Regions from separate parts of the Homo sapiens genome. Here region 1 is linked to region 2. A link means that fine-mapping ties the variant in region 2 to the expression of a gene that starts in the linked region. Tissue or cell type: cerebellum. Region 2 holds a variant in brackets; the other region holds the start of a gene. All regions are shown on one strand. Distances are from middle to middle.

Region 1 (2,500 bases), 52 kb after region 2:
AGACCTGCACGTGCTCTTTGTGGCAGAGCTGGCCTTATACGCACTCCTGGGTGAATAAACAGGGAGACATCTCCTAAGAACAAACGCTTCTCAGAAACAGTATAGTCTAAACTCATACTGAAGGGAGAATAAGCCAGCCACGGGCTGGAGAGACCCCCGCCTACATTACTAAGTAACAGGAAAGGCTAAGATTTGGAGCCTTCCTCCGGTTCAGATCTATCCCGGGAGTAATGGAAGATGCTTGCCTGTTGACAATTTTTTTTTATTAAAAATCCCACCCAGGAGGTCTCTCCTGATAGGAGGGGACCATCCTATCCTCTAAGGCAAATTCCAGCTTCTTCCCTGAAATGTACATCCGCTACTGAGCCTCAGAATGCTATTTGTTCCACCTACTTCCACAGTTTTAAGGTCTTCAGCAACAGGAGAAGACAGCAGGAAAACTTGAAGTGCAGTTGGCTCCCGCTGAGATGTCACTAGCAGAAAAAGGGAACACAAGCAAAAGGCAAGATTCTAAAGACAGAGGTGACACCTTCTGCTCCAAACATTTGGAGGGTCACCTTTCCAGAAGTCAGACTCGAAGTCCTGAATTCTGGCATGAATGAGTTCTCCTACGTGTAGGGGGTGGCCTGGAAAGATCTTAATTTGTAAGTTGACAGGTAAGGGGCCTTCAGTTGGAGAATCTTGTCACCTGATTCTCAAAGCCAAAAATATCTTACTGTCTGAAACATGAGGTCTTGAGTAGTTCAACTTGACCCATGCAGACATAATTTGAGAGACGCCAAGGAGGATTAGGAAAAAATGTATCTGGTCTTACTCAACTCTGAACATTGCATGAGTCAAACGTTTTCCTAGCTCTCTGTTTGTGTGATGGGTCCACTCTGATGGATTCTTGGCGATGTATCTTTCATGACCAAAATTCAAAAGAGGCCATTCGAAGTGGCTCCCACAAAAGCTGCTGCAGAGCCCCAGACATTCAGAAGCCAATAGTGAAGGGGCCAAAAGCCATCCCTCAATGTTCACTGACACTTTGCGAGCCTTGGGGCAAGTTGGCGATGTCAAAACATGTTTTTAGGGCGTGTTTGCCAACATACAGGTCTTGGGCAGGATTGCAGACCTCTGCAGATGGTACCAAAGTAAAGGGGGAGATGGTAGCTGAATAATCTCTTATCATCCCTAAAGTGCAAAGTGAAATGAGAGTGGATTTTTCCTTCCAAATCCACTTGGAGTGAGTCCCGAAAGACTCACTTTTGCGGCAATCCCCACAATGACATCACTGGAGCGGAGGTTATATAATTTAAAGCAACCACATCTCCACAGCACTTCCCAGAAGAGAAAACTCCTCCAAAAGCAGCTCTCACTATCAGAAAACCCAACTACAGTTGTGAACGCCTTCATTTTCTGCCTGAGTAAGTAAATGACCACCTTTTTTTTTTCTTTTATGAGAGTACAATATGAGAGGAAATCTGTGTCTCTTAGAAAAACAAAAAACTTCCTTTTACACCTACCTATTGGCAAAATTTTCCACTTCTGTGAGGGTACTTTTTAAAAATAATTCTAAATCAATTTAAGAGACTTTTATTTCATGCCTAGTTTGGGTCTTAATTGCTTTTCCAGAACAGGAGGAGGAGGGAAAGGTTTTAGAACTCGTAGGAAGGTTCCAGTAGCTCCTTATATCAAAGTCAGGTGAAACATGTCAGGGCTGAATGCAGCCACCAGAGTTCGCATGGACTGACCAGTTACAGCCTGCAAATTCTGAATCATAAAAATTAAATTAGTCTCTCTGGGATGGCTTACAAGATTTCATAAGACCAATAACTGGTTGGGTTATTCGTGGCTTGAAAGTAGCATCTTACTATGTGACCGTGCTGATGGTCTTTAACATCTGTGGCTGAATTTCCAATGCCTTTAACATCACCATGCTGTTGAAATTGGAGTTAATTTGAAGAATTAACTAATTTGTTGAAGAAAGTCACACTGTCTCATAGCCTAGGTTAAAATGTGCAGAATTCAGAAAATACCACACAGGAATTACAGAATTGCCATCTCTTGTAGACTTGCCCAGTGCCCCTTCTGAGTTCTTCAAATAGGGTCACATATTACTAACAATATCCAGAGATATTGTTTATTGAGCACCTACTATGTTCCAGGCAAATATCAGAGCTAAAGCTGAAAACTGGCAAAGGAAGATTTCTCCTCTCTAGCCAACTTTATAAACACAGACAGCAGCAGGTGAGGACAATCCCTTTAAAAATAAGCCCCATGTGAGCAGACACATGCTGTGGCTGCAGTGGCCCCAGCCACCTCCCCGTCCTGGGGATGGGGGCGGTGTCCACTGACCTAATCAGGTTCGAGCTAAAGTCCCTGCGTAGCTGGTCGTCTCTGGCTTCCTGGGCAGGGTGCAGCCTCACCCCCGTGCTGGTTTCCTAAGGCTGCTATAATTAATTATCACAAAGTGAGTGGCTTAAAACGATGCAAGTTATTATCTTACAGTTCTGGAGAT
Region 2 (2,756 bases):
AGGCGGCAGCTATGTGTGGCACGTAGGGTGGTGTTAACGAGGTTTCCTTGGCTCCCTATGGATTGGCTAACTTAAATAAGTTTGTGAGTTCCAGATGATGGGAGCTGTCCATTATTGTTTGGTACCTGGCTCCAAGGCCATCAGGGCAGGTGGCTAGTGGCCCAGAGTGTGAGAACCTGGTAAGAGAAAGGGCCAGAATGTGAACTTAATCAGCTGCTCATGAACTGGCTGGCCTCCAGCCAGGACCTCAAAACTGGTTTAAAGTAGCCTTTTTAAAAAACTATATGACAGAGATGGATGGAGATGTGTGCAGATGGACAGATGTCTTTTAGAGATTTCTGTCAATGATATTTACAGAAGCATCAACATTGGATTCAGATCCTTGAGGATTTTCAACTCATAGATACAGAGCTCTACAATATCTAAGTTGGAAGAGACTTCAGAGGGTCTCTGGACGCTCATGCAGGTCTCAATATGTTGTGGATCTCAGAGCTCTTCAATATTTTAGTGAAAGCTATAGATGAGGCTCCATAGGGGATAAAGCACAGACACACCTTTTCAGAGGGCTTGTGGACTCTGGGCAGCCTGTCCATAGACCTCTGTCCCCAACTGGCAAGTCAGGAAACTCCAGATTAAGGAGCCCCAATGTGGTTGAACAGCCAGGTGCACAGATGAGTCAACCACACAGCCAGGCCAGGGAGGGCCTTCACTCAAGAGCCTACAGCCAGTTCACAGCCAAGCCAGGGCTAGCGCCCAGGCCACCCATAAACTGATCTGAGACTCTGTTTCCCTGTCTCCATGATGATGGGATCAGGCTTGATTGCTGGTTTGTAGGCTTGTTATGAATCAAGTCACAGGGAAGAGGAGCTGATGGGCTGGGGGGACGTCCTCTGGCCCTCCTGTCTCTTCCCCAGATCCACTGGGCCCACTCTTATCTGTTCTCTTCTGAAGGAAGGGTTTTAAGGCTTCAAAAAAAAATGTTTTGAAAGTCCCTGCCCTTTCCAGCTCCTACCGTCTCAGCCCTGGGAGTGTAAAGTGCTGCAGATAGTTAGTAAGTCTTTGAGCAAAACTGAGAAAGCCAGCCTGAGCCTTGACATGGGAGAAACCTCCGCCATACATCTCCGAAGAAACGGCCGCGTGTCTCAGGGGAGCGCAAACACCCGTACCCAGGAAACAGGACAGCTTCTGCCACTGTCGCCCTTGGGAGCCGTACGTGGCATACAAAGAAATCCCAGGACTCCGCCTGCCCACCTGGCCACCCTCTGTTTACACCTTCCGCGTAAACGCCCACTGTTTACATCCAAAACTCAGACACAAAATAACCACCTCAAGAAGATAAATAATGATAAGAAATAAATGTTACGCGAGGCAAATTTATTCACATGGGGCTTCCCAGGCCACTTTGTGGTCAGCCGGGAGGGACGTTTTTGCCGTCCCACGACTCCAACGGGCAGCCGGGCTACGCAAACATGGAAATCTTCCAAGAGCCTCCCTGGCCCCCAGGGCTCAGAGGGTGGCAGAGCGGAGAGCGAAGGTGGCCGCAGCCTTCCCGGCCCCACAGCCAGCCTGGCTCCAGCTGGGCAGGAGTGCAGAGCTCAGCTGGAGGCGGAGGGGGAAGTGCCCAGGAGGCTGATGACATCA[C/T]TACCCAGCCCTTGAAAGATGAGCTGTTCCCGCCGCCACTCCAGCTCTGGCTTCTGGGCTCCGAGGAGGGGTGGGGACGGTGGGGACGGTGGGGACATCAGGCTGCCCCGCAGTACCAGGGAGCGACTGAAGTGCCCATGCCGCTTGCTCCGGAGAAGGTGGGTGCCGGGCAGGGGCTGCTCCAGCCGCCTCACCTCTGCTGGGAGGACAAACTGTCCCAGCACAGAGGGAGGGAGGGAGGGCAGGCAGCGGGGAGAAGTTTCCCTGTGGTCGTGGGGAGTTGGGAAAAGTTCCCTTCCTTCCGGAGGGGAGGTCTGACAGGCGATGGGGAGAAGGGTTCCCAGCAGGAGGAATCGCCCTGTTTGTCTGTTGTAGGTTTCTCTTCTCTGAATCAAGGTGACAGACAGGCTTGTGTGTGTCCAGTGTGTGAGGGATTTCGTGATTGGATTTTCACATACTTTGAGTGGACACCTTGGAGTAAGGCAGCGAGGTGTGTGTGGTGCAGCAGGGACGGGTGCTGGGTGGAGGCTCCAGAACCTGGCTTTTCACCCACAGCTGTGCCACTCCTTGGCCCTGTGTGACCCTGGACAAGCTATTCAACCTCTCTGAGCCTCAGTTTCTCTGTCTGCAAAGCAGCCAGCTCGCTGGCTCCCTGGGGGTGGCAGGGTTAAATCAGAAGCAGGCGGGGGTGGGGGGGTTTGTGAATGTTGGCTGATGCGCCTCCAGGAGGCAGGTGGTAGTGACTACCTCAGATGGGCTTAGAGACCCTCTTCCCACGGTCCTGGCTGACCAGGGCAGGGGGATAGGATGGTGCAGGGGTTCCAAGCACCGGCTTTGCATCCGGCCCAGGTTGCAGCTCCAGCCCTGCTCTCACCCTGTGGGTGACGTTTTTGGGCGAGTTATTTTGTCCTGTCTCCTGAGCTATAAAGAAGACCTGGAAGTTCCTCTTTATGCAAAGATAGAGGTAGGCTCTTGCCTGTGAAGCACCACGTATGTCATAGGCACTAAATAAATGGCAGCCGTGATTCGAGTTGCTGAGAGTAGGTCGTTTCCGCAGCCTGGGTGGAGGTGAACAGCAGGTGTTGCTGTTCCAGGCAGGTCAGAATGTGCCTCAC

The links. PIP is the estimated chance that this variant, and not a neighbour inherited with it, causes the effect.
Region 1: it holds the start of BDKRB1, and the variant in region 2 is fine-mapped to the expression of BDKRB1 in cerebellum (GTEx, PIP above 0.99).

The regions. Positions count from the first base shown.
Region 1 is chr14:96,254,895-96,257,394 of GRCh38, forward strand. BDKRB1 (bradykinin receptor B1) reads left to right here and starts at 1,316. Exons shown (of 3, transcript NM_000710.4): 1 at 1,316-1,406.
Region 2 is chr14:96,203,161-96,205,916 of GRCh38, forward strand. BDKRB2 (bradykinin receptor B2) reads left to right here and starts at 1,679. Exons shown (of 3, transcript NM_001379692.1): 1 at 1,679-1,799. RefSeq lists an enhancer at 1,140-2,015. The variant C/T (reference allele first, on the strand shown) is at 1,642.